Linked DNA regions of Homo sapiens: all the other regions are reported to be linked to region 3. Evidence: microRNA targets listed by miRTarBase, many of them from high-throughput screens and not tested one by one. Region 3 holds a microRNA gene; each other region holds the end of a gene's coding sequence.
What was found. Region 3 holds the annotated microRNA hsa-miR-518a-5p (CUGCAAAGGGAAGCCCUUUC, at 4,326-4,345, opposite strand). A microRNA usually pairs through its seed, bases 2 to 8, with sites in the 3' UTR of a target mRNA and lowers its output. Matches are read on the target gene's strand: a 7mer-m8 pairs with bases 2 to 8, a 7mer-A1 pairs with bases 2 to 7 and ends in A, and an 8mer does both.

Region 1: the mRNA of UBE2D2 is a reported target of hsa-miR-518a-5p. Seed matches in the 3' UTR shown: 7mer-m8 at 3,178-3,184.
Region 2: miRTarBase lists MATCAP2 as a target of hsa-miR-518a-5p. Seed matches in the 3' UTR shown: 7mer-A1 at 3,801-3,807.

The regions. Positions count from the first base shown.
Region 1 is chr5:139,624,958-139,631,621 of GRCh38, forward strand. UBE2D2 (ubiquitin conjugating enzyme E2 D2) reads left to right here. Exons shown (of 7, transcript NM_003339.3): 7 at 1,799-3,477. The coding sequence ends at 1,844. Among named protein-coding and RNA genes, the nearest start is that of CXXC5, 20 kb to the right of the region's middle.
Region 2 is chr7:36,321,500-36,328,163 of GRCh38, reverse strand. MATCAP2 (microtubule associated tyrosine carboxypeptidase 2) reads left to right here. Exons shown (of 7, transcript NM_001199706.2): 7 at 1,246-4,012. The coding sequence ends at 1,404. Among named protein-coding and RNA genes, the nearest start is that of MATCAP2, 42 kb to the left of the region's middle.
Region 3 is chr19:53,752,447-53,758,375 of GRCh38, reverse strand. It overlaps MIR527 (microRNA 527), which reads right to left and starts at 4,358; the gene lies at 4,274-4,358. It overlaps MIR516A1 (microRNA 516a-1), which reads right to left and starts at 1,635; the gene lies at 1,546-1,635. LOC124904765 (a long non-coding RNA gene) reads right to left here. Exons shown (of 6, transcript XR_007067334.1): 6 at 5,738-5,929. LOC124904766 (a long non-coding RNA gene) reads right to left here and starts at 2,138. Exons shown (of 2, transcript XR_007067335.1): 1 at 693-2,138. It also overlaps MIR519A1 and MIR1283-2.

The DNA.
Region 1 (6,664 bases), not on the chromosome of region 3:
TGAATGCTTACCAGAAGTCATTTCCCAAGTCATCATGGAGTAATGTTGAACACTGTTGAACAGAACTTTCCCAAACTGCACTGCCCCCACCCTCTAACCCCCCACTTTTTTTTTTGCAGAGACAGGGTCTTGTTCTTCAGCCCAGACTGGAGTACAGTGGCACAATCGTGGCTCACTGCAGTGTCAAACTCATGGGCTCAAGTGATCCTCCCACCCCAGCCTCCCCAGTAGCTGGGACTGCTAGTACATGCCACTACACCTTTCCAGCCTCCCCAGTAGCTGGGACTGCTAGTACATGCCACTACACCTGGCTAATTTGTTTTTTTTTTTTTTTTTTTGTAGAGACAGGATCTCACTATGTTGCACAGGCTGGTCTCTAATTCCTGGCCTCAAGCAGGCCTTCTGCCTCAGCCCCCCAAAGTGCTGCTGTTACAGGCATGAGTTACCGTGCAAGGCCAGCATACCCACCCCCACCCCCCCCCCTTTTTTTTTTTTTTTTTTTTTGAGGCAGGGTCTTGCTCTGTTGCCCGGACTGGAATGCAGTGGCACAATCACAGCTCACTGTAACCTCAACCTCCCAGGCTCAAGTAGTCCTCCCATCTGAGCTTCCCAAGTAGCTGGGACCACAGGCAGATGCCATCACATCCAGCTAATTTTTTTTTTTTTGAGACAGAGTCTTGCTCCGTTGCCCAGGTGGAATGCAGTGGCACAATCTTGGCTCACTGCAGCCTCTGCCTCCCAGGCTCAAGTGATTCCTGTGCCTCAGCCTCCTGAGTAGCTGGGATTACAGGCGCACATCACCATGCCTGGCTAATTTTTGTGTTTTCAGTAGAGACGGGATTTTGCCATGTTGGCCAGGCTGGTCTGGAACTCCTGACCTCAAGTGATCCAGCTGCTCCAGCCTCCCAAAGTGCTGGGATTACAGGCGTGAGCCACCACACCCGGCCTAGCACCCGTTTTTTAATAGGAGAATTATAGAATCATTTGCTCTGCTTACTTTATTCAAATGTTCTTCTGAAGCAATAAACCCATTCATTTTGTCAACCAAATTGTTGAAATTAGTTCTACCAGAACCAATTGTTTTATTGATATGAAAGGAAAGTTTGGTTTTTTTTCCCCCTTTTTTTTTGAGACAGAGCCTCACTCTGTCACCCAGGCTATGGTACAGTATTGCAATCTCAGCTCACTGCAACCTCTGCCTCCTGAGCTCAAACGATCTTCCCACCTCAGCCTCCTGAGTAGCTGGGACTATAGTCATGCGCCACCACACCCTGCTAATTTTTGTATTTTTTTGTAGAGACAGGGTTTTATCATGTTGCCCAGGCTGGTGTGAAACGCCTGGGCTCAAGTGATCCACCCGACTCAGCCTCCCAAAGTGCTGGGATTACAGGTGTGAGCCAACATGCCCAGCCTTCTGTCGGTTTAATCATTATTAGTATATGAGTTCAAGAACTATGTAATGTAGAATCATATAATTTCAAGTACTTTAAATGAATGAATTGAGTGGACATCTTTTGTAGAAATAGGCCAATCAAGTATGGAATAAGGTATATGCCAACAAATACTAAAATTTAATCAGAACCCTCTATAAGTAGCAATTAAAGGAGACTTTCACATTTTACAGCTCCTTCCCATTATCATTGAATTAATCCTTATCAGAAATTTGGGATAGAAAGGGGCCTTTCCTTGAATGTCCTATAAGCTACTCTCTTCAAGTTACTTGATGGGATAATGAATGGAATCTGTTGCTTACTGACTCCACACCTATGTTAAGCCAAGCTTCTCTTTGTGTGTACAGGTACAACAGAATAGCTCGGGAATGGACTCAGAAGTATGCGATGTAATTAAAGAAATTATTGGATAACCTCTACAAATAAAGATAGGGGAACTCTGAAAGAGAAAGTCCTTTTGATTTCCATTTGACTGCTTTCTATGAGCCCACGCCTCATCTTCCCCTGTGCACATGTTTACCTGATACAGCAGTGCTGCGTGTTGTACATACTTGGAACAACAAACTAGAAATACTGTACTTCTGTACCAACATTGCCTCCTAGCAGAGAAGTGTGTGTGTGACAAGCCAGTTCTACAGGCATTACCTAGGTGTGAGACTAAAAGCTTTTCTTATTGACTTAAATTTGGATAACAGCAAGGTGTGAGGGGGGTGGTGGGTATGGTGTGTGCTTGGATGGGAAAGAAAAGGCTCCACTCACCTATAGGAGATTATTTTTAAGTGGAATCCATTTAAACTCAAAACAGTTATGAAAAGCAAGGTGAAGAACATGAAGCTGTGTCTGTATTCATTTTATTCCGAAGGAGCTACGTCTTAGGTGAAAGTTATGACCAACCAGATTAAACTCTACCCACATCCTGCATTTTAAGGTCTAAGTTTAACTGGTCAACATTTAAATGGATTGGAGCTATTAGTACATCAAGTGTGATGGGCTTTGTTCCCAACTCTTTTACATCTCCCTACCCCTTCAACCTTTGGCCTTTCAGCCCTTCTTTCTCTCTTCCATATTCTTTGGTTTGTATGTGGTTTCTCAGTTAATACATAGCTAATAGCTCTTATTTTTCTTATGTTTTTAACCGCTTAGGTCTATTTGGATGTAAGGGTGAAAATTCATTTGATGGAAATACTTGTGTATATTTAAAGACCCAATTGCTCCTCTGGAGCTTGTACTTTCAAGAATGATTAATCTGTGTAATAAACTGGTTACTACAGTCATTACATATAATTTTGTGTGAATAGGCTTTTTCATTTTTAAGAAGTTTGTCTAGCTGAGATTAGTGGTGGATTTTCTCCCACTTCTGAAATGTTCATTTATACTGGTTGCATTTTAAGATCATGAAACAATTCCAGTTACATTGTAAAAAGGATATCTTACGAGTAATTTTATTGAACAAGTTAGAGGCATAAGCTTAAGAGCATTTCCATGAAACAACACATGCAGCATTCCAGGAACTTGATTGTTAAATTCAATAAGAAATTTGCTTTATTAATGAAACTAAGCTGCATTTCATCAAAACCTTGTGACATTCCCTTGGTACATAGGACATAAAACACAGAGGCATTGCTATTTGGTAAGTTAAGCTTCTGTGATTGTAATTATAAAAGAGCAACATTGACCAAACCTGGGAAACAAGAGCACAGTCTTGTTTGGAGAGTCTACATAATTACTTTGCACTAACATTTGCAGGATGTTCACACAATTTTAAATTGTACTGTATGTGGCTTTTTGAAGTCTTCCCTTGACCCTAGTAAAATATAGCTTGAAACTTGTAAACAACTGTGTTTGCCAGAAACATCATTCATGTGAACTAGGCAAGTTACCTTTTTTCCCCCCTTCTTTTCCTAATTGTAAACTAGGCCAACCTGAAAGCCATGGCTGATGCTCTAGCCATCAGGTTCTTTCAAATGCATCTTTACACTCTTGCACAAAAGTTAAGGAATAAATGTCCACTGCTTTTGGTTTTAAACTTGTTCACCTTGTCTTATCTCTCACTGTCACTGCTCCTCCACCTTGGAACTTGTGTGATAAAACCCAAAACCTCTTACAGTTCTCTTATAAGCATTTCAAGCATCTCTTATTAGCATCCTTGACTTTGCAGAAAAGGCTTAACTGTTAACAGTTGTGGGGAAAGGAGTTAGAATTTAGCTTAAGCCTAAAATCACCCTGTATTCTCAGTATTATGGGCAAGTGGGACTTCATCTTTTTTTTTTTTTTTTTTTTTTTTTAAGAGAGGGACAGGGTCTCATTCTCTTGCCTAAGCTGGAGTGCAGTCGGAGTCATGACAGCACAGCTCACTGCAGCCTCAACCTTCTAGGCTCGAACAATCCCCCTACCTCAACCTCCCAAGTTGCTGGGACTTATGGTACATGCCACCACACCTGGCTAATTTTTAAATTTTTTTTAGAGACAGGAGTCTCACTATGTTGCCCAAGCTGGTCCTGAACTCCTAGGCTCAAGTGATCCTCTTGTCTCAGCCTCCCAAAGTGCTGGGACTAGAGACAGCCACCATACCCAGCCTTCCATCAATTATTGGCTTGCTATTAACTACATACTGTTGACCGTGGGTCAGTTGCACAGATCCTGAAAGCTCATTCTGTATTTGCCTGTCATCTTAGAGAGCAGCCAGCTTATTACCATTTATTAGATCATAATATGGATATTTTCACAAGAGTGTTCTTAAGTATTTTTAAGTGCCAAATGAAAGCCATCCTCCAGGTGTGCAGGTGCCAATTGAAGGGGTTTGGATGGTCACAAACAACATTAGGCCCTTGAATGGGGTTTGGTCTTGCCCATTTGAGTATGAAGCTTCTTTGGTCCAGTCTGTGTATATGTGCCTGGCCAGAAAGAAAGCCCAGTGAGAGAAGCCACCTTTCCCACTCACCAAAAACAACAACAACAACAAAAAATCCCTCAGGGTTGTTTTCATCTGGACCACATTGCTCTTCACAGAAGTTTCTATGACTTTGTCGTATGTAAAATCCAGTCTGTAGCAACCTTGATTATCTTGGAAAAGTTACAGGAGAACGTCAAGTGTATGGTTTCCTTTTGTTTGCTTCTTAATAGCCCAAAGTACTTTGTCAAGTTAAAGCTGGGGCAGTGTCTTTTGGTAAAATGAAGTCACTTCAGATACTTATATGCTTTGCTATTGGCGAATCAGTAGTCAAAGGTATCATTGTCCTGCGAGTTTATGCACTTTGAGTAGTACAGAGACTTGGAAGGAGGGCGGTAGGGGTGGGGAGAGAGAAGTTAGGAAGGTCTGTGAAGAGAAGGAAAAGGTAGTTGTCAGAGAGAGACCCTTTCTCTACACTAACCTAGCAATAGAGGCCTTCTTTTTCCACTTCCAACTGCTAAAATACTCTGCTTTCTGAATCATTCCTCTTTGTTTCAACAAGTTATTTTGAGACCTGGGTAGCTTGTCAGGAGAAATGGATTATTTCTAAATTATGGCTGGAATGCCTATAAACTGTCCCTTGTCTGTAATTAAGGTGAAACTCTGGCTTTGTCTCTGTGTGCTGTATGGCACCCCTTAACTACCCAGGGTAAGTTTTGAAGAGGAGAACTCTCAGCTGGGCCCTGTGGCTCATGCCTGTAATCCCAGCATTTTGGGATGCCAAGGTGGGCGGATCACCTGAGGTCAGGAGTTCAAGACCAGCCTGACCAACATGGAGGAACCTCGTGTCTACTAAAAACACAAAATTAGCCGGGCATGGTGGCACATGTCTGTAATCCCAGCTACTCAGGAGGCTGAGGCAGGAGAATCGCTTGAATCCGGGAGGCGGAGGTTGTGGTGAGCCGAGATCGCGCCATTGCACTCCAGCCTGGGCGACAAGAGCAAAACTCAGTCTTAAAAAAAAAACAAAAAAAACTCTCTTCTCATTCCCAGGTCTTCAGGATTATAAACACATCTTTCCTTCCTTCCAAATCAGGAGTAAGCATTTTTATTACTCCTACAGAAAACTGTAACTAGTGTTAGGAATCCATCTCCTTTTGATTTCCTCATTTTCCCTTTATGAAACACTATTTCAAGTGATGGGTTATTTTGGTGAGTGATGTTAGGCAGGAGAAAGCAGGTTTGTTTTTTGTTGTTGTTGTTTGGAGACAGAGTCTCACTGTCGCCCAGGTTGGAGTGTAGTGGTGCGATCTTGGCTCACTGCAACCTCCACCTCCCAAGTTTAAGTGATTTTCCTGCCTCAGCCTCCTGAGTAGCTGAGATTATAGGCACATGCCACCCACGCCTGGCTAATTTTTGTATTTTTAGTAGAGACGGTTTCACCATGTTGTCCAGGCTGGTCTTGAACTCCTGACTTCAGGTGATCTGCCCACCTTGGCCTCCCAAAGTGCTGGGATTACAGGCATGAGCCACCACACCCAGCCAAGAAAGCAGATTTTTAATATGAAAATAACTGAAGGTAGCAAACTATTTGCACTATACATCCAGCAAGAGGAAATAGACTTCCTTTGGGGCACTCCTGGAGCTAGTCCCTTCTATTTTCCTTTTCTTCCCTTCCTTTCCCTTTCTTTCTCTTCCTTTCCCTCCCTTCCCCTGCCCTTTGCCTGCCTGCCTGCCTGCCTCCCTCCCTCCTTCCCCACTTTCCTTTTTCTTTCTTTACTTTCCTTCTTTCTCTTTTTCTTTCTCTCTTTTCTCTTTTTTTGTGTGTGGTTTTTTTTTTTTTTTTTTTTTTTTTTTTGAGAGAGGGTCTCACTTTTTTGCCCAGGCTAGAATGCAGTGGTGCAAACATGGCTCACTGCAGCCTCACACTCCTGAGCTCAAGCAGTCCACCCACCTCGGCCTCCCAAAGTGCTGGGATTACAGGCATGAGCCACCTCGCCCAGCCTATTTTCTTTTATATTGTGCATGCACTTAGATGAAAACTGGCTTTCTCCATCCCACAAAAACCTTCTTTAAGTGTTTCCCTGGCACTATAACCTTTTTTAATCAGGACTGGTATAAGTGGTTGATATTCAGGCCCCTCAGTATATTTCCAGACCAATTTCTCAGATGGGCTTAGAAATAGGGAAATGAGACGGGATCACATTGTCAGGGTTACTATTCATGAAGCAATTCCTTCATTGCTGGCATATTTTACCTTAGTCAATGTAAGGAGAAAAGCTCAATGGTTAGGACTAAGTAAGCCTTTAAGGCCTTTGTCCTC
Region 2 (6,664 bases), not on the chromosome of region 3:
CCAGGAGTTCGAGGCTACACTGAGCTGTGATTGCATCACTGCACTCCTGCTAGGGTGACAGAGAAAGACCCTATCTCTTAAAAAAAATTTAAGAATAAAGATAATTTATAGAACTTTAAAAGCTTCATCCTTAAACCTAATATAAGTACCTGTGAGAGACTAGCTTCTTAAATAGGAGAATTAAAAAGATGTGAACTTTTTTACAAAAATTCAAAATAAAAGCAAGAAGATGTAATACAAATCACAAATCATTATGTATCCTAAATTAAAGAGAAATAGGAACTTAATATATGGATTGAGTATCTCTTCTCTAAAATGCTTGGGACTAGAAGTGTTTTGGATTTTGGATTTTTTTGAATTTTGGAGTATTTACATTCTTTACTAGTTGAGCATCCGAAATCCCCAAATTGGAAATTCCACATGCTCCAATGAGTATTTTCTGTGAGCATCACGTGGGTGCTCCAAAAGTTTGCAGCATTTCAGATTTTGCATTTTTGGATTTGGGATGCTCACCCTGTATAATTGTGCTAATTTTTCTAATTTAATAATATGTCATTTATATTCTAGTTATTTTGATTCTTTTATTTCGATTTAGCCAGAAGACTTGTTTGGTTTTAGAGTCTCTCTCACACACAAATATATTAAGTATGGCTGTCTAATTTTTAGACAAACTGAGTAGGTTCAAGGTAGAGTATTAAATCAAATTTGACTTTTTAAAATAATCTTTTAGGCTGGGCACGGTGGCTCACGCCTGTAATCCCAGCACTTTGGGAGGCCAAGGTGGGTGGATCACCTGAGGTCAGGAGTTCGAGACCAGCCTGGCTAATGAAACATCATCTCTACTAAAAATACAAAAAATTAGCCAGGTGTGGTGGCGGGCGCCTGTAATCCCAGCTACTCAGGAGGCTGAGGCAGGAGAATCACCTGAACCCGGGAGGTGGAGGTTGCAGTGAGCCAAGATCACGCCACTGCACTCCAGCCTGGGCAACAAGAATGAAACTCCATCTCAGGAAAAAAATAATAATAATACTCTTTTAATATGGTCATGGTATAAGGGGCAGAGAAATACATTATTATTTAACACAGTGAAGAAAATGTAAGTCACTGATTTTTGTTACTTTGCAGCTATTAAAATAATTTGACAAATGATCTGTATACTTTCATTTAAGGCCCAGGGAAGAAATTCATCCTTAAAATGTACATTGTAGTTACATTTTTAATTTAACTCATCTTCCTTTTTTTCAGGTTTCTTATGAAGATGTGGATCGCTTAAAAGGATTGGCAGTTACCGAAAACATGAGGGTCCCTCATTTCCTGCAGGACCATGGCCGATATATGGAACACTTAGAGAAGATCATGGAAGTGAATGAACTGACTGACAGGGAACTGAAAGATCTTATATAGTAATTAGCGTTCTGGCAAACATAGCTAAGCTATGCCTCCATGTATATTACCAGTTAGGTGCAGTTAGCACCAGAAGATTTATAAAAGAAGAAAGACTACTTGTGTTTTCTGAAGAAGGGTCTTCAGTATTCAGCGGAATTTTTAGGTTAAGTACAGATCTTAAACTATTTCCCTAAAATGTTTCTATAGGTTGCAGGGGGAAGTTATTCCTATTTTCTGAATCTCGACAGAGTCAGATGAAAATACTACTGCTGAGCATTTTTGAAGACTCTTGGTCAAATTGCATGATAAATTTCTGCCTGAGCAGTAAGCACTGGCCTAGTGCTTCTGCCTAAATATGGAGGTCAGCTCCAACTGGAGACTGGCTGAATTCCATTGCTGTTCAGACTCCAAAGTTATATTTTATTTGATAAATAATGGTAATTATTCTCCTTTGAAAAATTAGTTTTGTGTTGCTCCAAAAAGCTAGCTATATATCTCAGCTTTCTTATTTCTTTTATATGTTGAGGGATTTTAAAGGGAGAGGAAAAGCAATTTGAAAATTTTTCATTAAGTGTTTTATTTTAACATTATTGTTTCACCTTATCAGCTTATAGGAACTAAATTAGAGAATCACCTCTTTTTGTCCGGTTATCTCTTAACTATGTTTTCATTTGCTGAAACATATTGTACCCTTTTAAATTTTTTACAGAGTTTTAACGTCTTTTCCACTGCATCCTTTATAAAAATAAGTACAAATTCCAGAGAGGTTTTCCTACACAAATACAAAATAATTGGGGAAGGGCTACTCACCTTTTTTATGAAACAGAATATGTAACAAGCAGAGGACAAATAGACTGACCTGGTTAAACGTAGGTTCTGGATGTTGATGGGTAGCACCTGCAGTAAACTTGACCATGCTCTGAAAAAAGAAATTTCTGGGTATTGATGGTTTATAAAGCCAGCTTTGTGCTATTGGTTCAGTATATTTTATCAAATCTTTGACTTCATCAACCCAGTAATGACATAGTTTAAATTTTAAAATGAGAGTTCTGTTTTGCTGTATTTCTCCTGCTAGCCTAGCTTTGTATTTTATCATCAGCTTCAGTATATACTTGTATATATATACCTGGATTCAAATGGTTCTTCATACAACTTAATGATCAGAAAGAATGCTGCTGTAAACACCCCACTCAAGATTGCTGCTGGAATTTCTACCCAAAGCTGTCTGAGAGTTTATCTTTACCTCAGTGCAGGCTTAAATAATGGTGCTAATACTGGTAGATATATACTGTGAAGCCTGGTTCACATTCATGCTAGAAAATGATTTTGGGAAATCTTTTATAGGAGAGGTTACATGATTTTTCTCTTTCACATATCTAGAAGGACTTGCCTCAAAGAAGAATGTTGCAGCAAACAGGATATACTCTAGCTGGTGCCCAAAGGTTCTTGCAAAACCATGAATCTTGCTTTTAGCAGTAAAGGGCCAGACACTTTGGAGCATTGAAAGGCCTTAGCCCCTGCTCCCCAACTACGTGCCATGCTGGGTAGTGTGTATCCTGTACATCTGTGTGCCAGGCTGGGGCAGACTGTGCCAATGCTCACCGAACACTAGAATCTGCTCTTACACCTCTAGCATGTATCTCGTTGTAGCAGAGTTGTGCACTTTCTCAGCATTGTGTAGTGTTTTCTAATTGCATCTAAAAACTTATCAAAAGTGATTGTGAAAACAGTGTCTTAGAAGTATAAACAGAAATGGCAATATTTATGTCCTGTGATTCAAGCCCAAAGGTTATAAATTCAACTTTCACAGGGAATAGCACTGCTAATCTTACTTTATGATTTAAATATAAAGGAAAATCACAGCAGCCTTAATTTCCTGTTGGTCGGATCATTTGCAGCAGTTCTAGTTCCTGACTTTTAAAATGGATGAAATTTTCTCTTTGTCTGATTTGGAAAAGGAACTGCTTTTTTGCCTTACTGCTTTGGTATAAGGATGAAAAACATGAGCACTCTGCAGACAAAATGACCTTAAATCACATTGATTAAGATATTTTAAAAGTTAGCAGTGAACCAAAAGTAGTTTCAGATTAGCAGAAATAAAGAGCTTTAAGTTTTAAAAGTTGAGATTGAATATTTAATGAAAGTTTATTAATTCTTTTTCCAGGAATAGCAGTAAGGTCAGTTTTTTTCCCTAAAATAAAAAGTTTTAATAAACAGAAAATTATAGCAACAGTACTTAGGAGAATAGTTGAAGATTGTATTAATTTTAATTATAATAGTTATTTGTCATAGGCTATTGATGATTAGAATTTCATTAGTTTTGTCCACTATAATTTTAAAAATAGTTGTGTCAAATACAAATTCTGGTAAACTGTTAGGTTTTAACACCAGACAGTATTCAAAGGAAATTAATGTTTGCAAACATAAATCCATAGTCTTCATTTCTTTATATTGTCACCTTTGTAAAAGTGTTTAAAATTTGTATTGTTTGTTTTGTATATCTTTGGGCATCTTGTGTCTAGCTATAATAAAAAGAAACGGTGCCAAGGTTCTCAGATGAAGTGTGTGGCTATGTATGCATGTAACTTGGTTTCTTTGAAAACCCAATTATATTTGTATTGTGGTGTTTCTTGTTTTTTATTTTGTGATAATTGTCAAAAGGACATTAATCATGCTTGTCTTCTAGTGCCGTTACTTCTTAGAAAAATATTATATTTACCACACTTCACCTTTTCCCTAATTATTTTAGCTTATACTCTCATGGGACATATGGAGAAAGGAAAAGGAGAGAGGTTGCATTAGTCTATTCTCATGCTGCTAATAAAGACATACTCGAAACTGGGTAATTTATAAAGGAAAGAGGTTTAATGGACTCATAGTTCCACATGGCAGGAGAGGCCTCACAATCATGGTGGAAGATGAAGGAAGAGCAAAGTGATGTCTTACATGGCGGCAGGCAAGAGAGCATGTGCAGGGGAACTCCCCTTTATAAAACCATCAGATCTCATGAGACTTATTCACTGTCATAAGAACAGCATAGGAAAGACTTGCCCCCATGACGTAATTACCTCGCACCAGGTCCCTCCCATGACACGTGGGAATCTTGGGAGCTACAATTCAAGATGAGATTTGGGTGGGGACACAGCCAAACCATATCAGAGGGACAATTTTTTTTCTTTTTTTGAGACGGAGTTTCACTCTTGTTGTCCAAGCTGGAGTGCAATGGTGCGATCTCGGCTCACTGCAACCTCCACCTCCTGGGTTCAGGTGATTCTTCTGCCTCAGCCTCCCAAGCAGCTAGGATTACAGGCATCCGCCACTGTGCCTGGCTAATTTTTTTGTATTTTTAGTTTCACCATGTTGGCCAGGCTGCTCTCAAACTCCTGATTTCAGGTGATCCACCTGCCTTTGCCTCCCAAAGTGCTGGGATTACAGGCATGGGCCACCATGCCTGGCCTCAGAGGGACAATTTTGTCTTAAGGTACTATCCTGTTCATTTAATAAACTTTTATGCAGAACGTATCAAGCAGGACCTGTGCTGATTACCAGAGATCCTCTGGTGAATAAGAGAAGAGAAGAGAAGAAGCACAGAAGAAGGTTATGGCACAGCCACATTCCCTTGACCAAAAAGTGCTACAGAAAAAATGTACACTCTGGTCAGTGGGCCTGCCTGTGTGTTTGAAGCAGAGGGGAAGATAATTTGCTAAATGGTGATTGTTCACAGGATTTTATTACTGCTTTTTGCACAGGATTTTATTACTGCTTTTTGCAAGGCTTATGTTTGGAATAAAAGCACCTTCCCAGGGGAAGTAGTAGACCAGGAATGCAGTTGCCTGGGTCATCATAGGCCTGTGGGAGATCCCCTGAGACCTCCTGCAGATGCCCATGGGAGCCAACACTGTATCTTTAAGAAGATGAGCATGAAGCCAGGATGGAGAGAAGAGTGTGGTGCCCTCACCCATCAGGGGCAAGTAACCAGGTATAATAGTTTTCATGCTGCTGATAAAGACATACCTGAGACTGGGCAATTTCCAAAAGAAAGAAGTTTATTGTACTTACAGTTCCACGTGGCTGGGGAGGCCTCACAATCATGGTGAAAGGTGAAGGTGAAAAGCCCGTGGTGAAAGGTGAAGGTGAAAAGCCCGTCTCACATGGCAGCAGACAAGAGAAGAGAGTTTGTGCAGGGAAACTCCCCCTTATAAAACCATCAGATCTCGTGAGACTTATTCACTACCACGAGAACAGCATGGAAAAGACCTGCCCCCATGATTCAATTACCTCCCACCAAGTCCCTCCCACAACACGTGAGAATTCAAGATGAGATTTGGGTGGAGACCCATCCAAACAATATCATTCCGCCCTGGCCTCTCCCAAATCGCATGTCCTCACATTTCAAAACCAATCATGCCTTCCCAGTAGTCCCCCAAAGTCTTATTTCAGCATTAACTCAAAAGTCCACAGTCCAAAGTCTCATCCGAGACAAGGCAAGTCCCTTCCTCCTATGAGCCTGTAAAATCAAAATCAAGTTAGTTACTTCCTAGATGCAATGGAGATACAGGCATTGGGTAAATACAGCCATTCCAAATGGGAGAAATTGGCCAAAACAAAGGGGTGACAGGCCCCATGCAAGTCTGAAATCTAGTGGGCAGTCAAATCTTAAATCTCCAAAATTGTCTCCCTTGACTCCATGTCTCACACCGAGGTCACATTGATGCACGAGATGGGCTCCCATGGCCTTGGGTAGTTTCACCCCTGTGGCTTTGCGGTCCCCCATCTGGCTGCTTTCACTAGCTGGCGTTGAATGTCTGTGGCTTCTCCATGTGCAAGCTATCGGTGGATCTACCATTCTGGAGTCTGGAGGACGGTAGCCCTCTTCTTACAGCTCCACTAGGTGGTGACCCGGTAGGGACTCTGTTGAGGCTCCCACCCCACATTTGCCTTCTGCACTGCCCTAGCAGAGGTTCTCCATGAGGGACCTGCCCCTGCAGCAAACTTCTGCCTGGGCATCCAGGCATTTTCATACATCCTCTGAAATCTACGCAGAGGTTCCCTAACCTCAATTCTTGAACATGTGGGAATTCAAGATGAGATCTGGGTGGGGACACAGCCAAACCATATGACCAGGCTTTGAATCCACACAACATAGAAGCTGCCAAGGCTTGGGGCTTCCACCATCTGAAGCAATAGCCCAAGCTGTGCCTTGGCCCCTTTTAGTCATCGCTGGAGCAGCTGAGATGCAGGGCATCAAGTCCCTAGACTGCATACAGCACAGGGACCC
Region 3 (5,929 bases):
TGATAAGCATGCTCTGCAAATGTATTACCGAGATCAGCATCAACTTCAACGCTGCTTTTCTCAAACCGTAACACTCCAAAGGGAAGCGATTTCTTTTCTTTCAGACAACAGAAAGCGCTTTCCTTTGTAGACTCACAGCTTGAGATCTTCTTGCTCCAGCACTCTGGGTTTCTTGTTGAAATTTTCCTTGACCAGGTTAAAATGGACAGAAAAATAAAGATGCATTCATTGTCCCTATTTGCATGTTTTCTGGAATCCAGAACATAACCCCCTAAAAGGACCATCTCCAGTTCCTTGCTTCAAAGGCTCAGCAGGTTAGCCTTGTTCAAGAGGCAGTCCTCCTGAGTATTATCTACAAAGAGAAAAAGCAATGCCTACTACACATACCTTTTTATTTTTTATTTTTTGAGATGAAGTCTCGCTCTGTCACCCAGGCTGGAGTGCAGTGGCGCGATCTCAGCTCACTGCAACCTCCGCTTCCTGGGTTCAAGCAATTCTCCTGCCTCAGCCTCCCAAGTAGCTGAGATTACTGGTGGAGCCACCACGCCCAGCTAATTTTTGTATTTTTAGTAGAGATGGGTTTCACCGTGTTGGTCAGGCTTGTCTCGAACTCCTGACCTCGTGATCCTCCCACCTCGGTCTCCCAAAGTGCTGGGATTACAGGCATGAGCCACCACGCCCAGCCCACATACCTTGTCTTTAACCAAGACAATTGGCCTGGAATTCATGAGAACAGCAATGGATGTTGAGCCAAGTGTTCACTTGAGTTCCAGTACAGGGGCACACAGTCCGGATGGGAGCATCCAAATGGAATCTAAAATGTTGAAGAATATACATTGTCACACACACAAACATTCTCCAGGATAGACCACAGGCTGGGATGTAAAAGCTCCTCCATAAAATTTGAGCAGAAACACACAAGAGTAGGGCACGCTTGCTCACACCATTAATCACAGCAGTTTTGGAGGCCCAGGCGGGAGGAGCAATTGAGCTCAAGGGTCCGAGACCAGCCTGGGCAACATGGTGAAACCTCATCTATACAAAAAATACAAAAGTTAGGCAGGTGTGGTAGTGCATGCCTGGAGACAGGTATTCAGGAGGCTGAGGTGGGAGGTGGAGGTTGCAGTGAGCCGAGATCGCACCACTGCCCTATAGCCTGGGTGACAGAGCCAGACCCTGTCTCAAAAATAAATCAATAAATCAATAATAAAAATGCAAAAGTTAGCTGGGCATGGTGGCACAGCCTGTAACCCCAGCTGCTCCGGAGGCTGAGGCAGGAGAATTGCTTGAACCCAGGAGGCAGAGATTGCAGTGAGCCAAGTTCCTGCCACTGCACTCCAGCCAGGGCCACAGAGTGAGACTCTGTCCCAAAAAGAGGGCCACTTGAACCCAAGAGATCTAAGTTGGAAGTGCCACCGCACTCCAGCCTGGGGAACAGACACCCTGTCTTAGATAAAAAACAAAACCCCACCATTATCCACGTCTGATGATCAGCACGCTCTGCAAATGTATTACCAAGATCAGCGTCAACTTCAACGTTGCTTTTCTCAAACCGTAACCCTCTGAAAGGAAGCACTTTCTTTTCTTTCAGACAACAGAAAGTGCTTCTTTCCTCGAGAAGGTCACAGCCTGAGATCTTGCTCCAGCACCGTGGGTTTTTTGTTGGAATTTTCCTAGATCAAGTTAAAATGGACAGAAACATAAAGATGCATTTATTGGCCCTGTTTGCATGTTTTCTGGAATCCAGAATATAAACCCCTAAAAGGAGGATCTCCAGTTACTTGCTTCAAAGAATCAGCAGGTTAGCTTTGTTCATCAAGGGGCAATCCTCCTGAGTTTTGTCTCTGGAAAGAAAAAGCAATGCCTGCTACACATATCTTATATTTAACCAAGAGAACTGGGCTGGATTTCTAGAGAAGAGCAATGGATATTGAGCCAGGTGTTCACCGGAGTTCCAGCACAAGGACACACAGTTTCTACGGAAGCAATCAAAATGGAATCTAAGATGTTGATGAATATACATTGTCTCACACACAAACATCCTCCAGGATAGACCACAGGCTAGGACATAAAAAATCCTCAATAAAATTTGAAAAGAAATACAGAAGCTGGGCGCGGTGGCTCATGCCTGTAATCCCAGCACTTCGGTAGGCCGAGGCCAGTAGATCATGAGGTCAGGAGTTTGAGACCAGCCTGGCCACCTTGATGAAACCCCATCTCTACTAAAAATACAAAAAATTAGCCAGGCGTGGTCGTGGGCACCTGTAATCCCAGCTACTTGGGAGGCTGAGGCAGTAGAATCACCTGAACCCGGGAGGGGGAGGTTGCCGTGAGCTGAGATCATGCCGTTGCACTCCAGCCTGGGTGACAGAGCGAGATCCCATCTCAAAAAAAAAAAAAAAAAAAAAAAGGCCGGGTGCAGTGGCTCACACCTGTAATCCCAGCACTTTGGGAGGCTGAGGCAGGGAGATCACGAGGTCAGGAGATCAAGACCATCCTGGCTAATACGGTGAAACCCCGTCTCTACTAAAAATACAAAAAATTAGCCAGGCGCGGTGGTGGGCACCTGTAATCCCAGTTACTTGGGAGGATGAGGCAGGAGAATCGCTTGAACCCGGGAGGGGTAGGATGCAGTGAACCGAGATCGTGCCATTGCACTCCAGGCTGGGTGACAGAGCGAGACCCCATCTCAAAAAAACAAAACAAAAAAACAAAAAAGCTGGGTGCGGTGGCTCAAGCCTGTAATCCCAGCACTTTGGGAGGCCAAGGCAGGCAGATCACGAGCTCAGGAGATCAAGACCATCCTGGCTAATCCAGTGAAACCCCGTCTTCACTAAAAATACAAAAAATTAGCCAGGCGTGGTGGCGGGTGCCTGTAGTGCCAGCTACTTGGGAGGCTGAGGCAGAAAAATATCATGAACTGGGGAGGCGGAGCTTGCAGTGAGCCAAGATCGTGCCACTGCACTCCAGCCTGGGTGACAGAGCCAGACTCCATCTCAAAAAAAAAAAAAAAAAAAGAAAAGAAAAGAAATACACAAGTTTGGGTGAGGGACAGTGGCCGAGACAGGAGCATCACTTGAGCTCAGTAGCTGGAGACCAGCTTGGGCAATATGGTGAAGCCCTGTCTGTAAAAAAACTACAAAAGTTAGGTGGCCAGGTGCAATGTCTCTCACCTGTAATCCTAGCACTTTGGGAGGTCGAGGCAGGTGGATCACTTGAGGTCAGGAGTTCAAGACCAGCCTGAGAAAGAAGGTGAAACCCATCTCTACTAAAAATACAAAATTAGCCAGGTGTGGTGGTGCATGCCTGTAATCCCAGCTACTTGGGAGGCTGAGGCAGGAGAATTGCTTGAAGCCGGGAGTCAGAGGTTGCAGTGAGCTGAAATCACCCCATTGCACTCCAGCCTGAGCGACAAAAGCAAAATTCCTTCTCAGAAAAAAAAGTGAGCCAGGTGTGGTGGTGCATGCCTGTAGACACTAATTCAGGGGACTTTAGGTGGGAGGTGGAGGTTGCAGTGAGCTGAGCTTGCAATACTACACTTTAGCCTGAGCAACAGAGCCAGACGTTGTCTCAAAAACAAAGAAACAAACACAAAACAAACACACAAACAAAAAAACCCAAAGCGATATAAGAATACTCTTCGTGTGCAGAAGAGTATTTTGTGTGTATATGATTATATATATAAGAATATATGACAAAATATATATCATACTAGCCAACATGGTGAAATCCAGTCTGTATTAAAAATGAAATATAAAAAGTAGCCAGGTGTGGTGGTGTACTTCTGTAATTCCAGCTACTCAGGAGGCTAAGGCAGAAGCATTACTTGAACCAGGGAAGCGCAGGTGGCAGCGAGCCGAGATCGTGCCACTGCCCTCCAGTCTGGGTGACAGTGAGACTCCATCTTAAAAATAAATAAATACATGAATAAAACCAAATATTATCCAGGTGTGGGGATGGGCACCTGTAAATCTCAGCTACTTGGGAGGCCGAAGCAGGAGAATTGCTTGAACCTGGGAGGCGGAGGTTGTAGTGAGCCAAGATGGGATCACTGCACTCCAGCCTCGGTGATAGAGAGACTCTGCCCCCAAAAAGGACCATTTGAATCCAAGAGACCTAGGTGGGATGTGCCACCGCACTCCAGCATGGGCAACACAGACCCTGTCTTAGAATAAAAAAGCAAAACCAAAACAGAACCCCACCACCGTCCAAGTGTGATAAGCATGCTCTGCAAATGTATTACCGAGATCAGCATCAACTTCAACGTTGCTTTTCTCAAACCGTAATTCACCAAAGGGAAGCACTTTCTTTTCTTTTAGACAACAGAAAGGGCTTCCCTTTGCAGTCACAGCTTGAGATCTTCTTGCTCCGGCACTCTGGGTTTCTTGTTGAAATTTTCCTTGACCAGGTCAAAACGGACACAAAAATAAAGATGCATGTATTGGCCCTGTTTGCATGTTTTCTGGAATCCAGAACATAAACCCCTAAAAGGACCATCTCCAGTTCCTTGCTTCAAAGAATCTGCAAGTTAGCCTTGTTCACCAAGGGGCAATCCTCCTGAGTTTTGTCTCTAAAGGGAAAAAGCAATGCCTACTACACATACCTTATCTTTACCGAGAACTGAGCTGGATGTCTAGAGAAAAGCGACGGATTTTGAACCAAGTGTTCACCTGAGTTCCAGTACAGGGACACAGTCCTGATGGGAGCATCCAAAATGGAATCTAAATTAGCCAGGCATGGTGGTGCATGCCTGTAATCCTAGCTTCTCAGGAGGCTGAGGCAGGAGAATTGGTTGAACCAAGGAGGAGGAGGTTGCAGTAAGCCACGATCGCGCCACTGCACTCCAGCCTGGGAGACACAGCAAGACTCCGTCTCAACAATAAATAAATAAATAAACAAATAAATAAAAATACAAAAATTAGCTGGGTGTGGTGGCTCACACCGGTAATCCCAGCTGCTCAGGAGGCTGAGTCAGGAGAATGGCTTGAACCTAGGAGGCGGAGGTTGCAGTGAGGAGAGTTTCTGCCACTGCCCTCCAGCCTGGGTCACAAAGCAAGACTGAACCAAAAAAAAGGACCACTCGAGCCCAAGAGATCTATGTTAAAAATGCCACCGCACTCCAGCCTGGGCAACAGACACCCTGTGGTAGAGAAAAACAGGCCGGGCGCAGTGGCTCACAGTTGTAATCCCAGCACTTTGGGAGATCGACGTGGGTGGATTACCTGAGGTCAGGAGTTCGAGACCAGCCTGGCCAACATGGTGCAAACCCTGTCTCTACTAAAAATACAAATAATTAGCCGGGCATGGTGGCACAGGCCTGTAATCCCAGCTACTCAGGAGGCTGAGGCAGGAGAATTGCTTGAGCCTGGGAGATGGAGGTTGCAGTGAGCCGAGATCACGCCACTGCGCTCCAGCCTGGGCCACAGAGCAAGACTCAGTCTCAAAAACAATAACAAGGCTGGACGCGGTGGCTCACGCCTGTAATCCCAGCACTTTGGGAGGCTGAGGCGGGTGGATCACGAGGTCAGGAGATCGAGACCATCCTGGCTAACACGGTGAAACCCCGTCTCTACTAAAAATACAAAGAATTAGCCGGGTGTGCTGGCGGGCACCTGTAGTCCCAGCTACACAGGAGGCTGAGGCAGGAGAATGGCGTGAACCCGGGAGGCAGAACTTGCAGTGAGCCGAGATAGCGCCACTGCACTCCAGCCTGGGCGAAAGAGCAAGACTCGGCCTCAAAAAAAAAAAAAACAAAAAACAAAAAACAGAAAAACCCCAAAACTAAACAAAACAAAACAAAAAAAAACTCAGAAGCCCAACATCATCCAAGTCTGATTATAAGCATTCGCTGCAAATTTATTACCAAGATCAGCATCAGCTTCAATGTTGCTTTTCTCAAACAGTAACACTCTAAAAGGATGCACTTTCC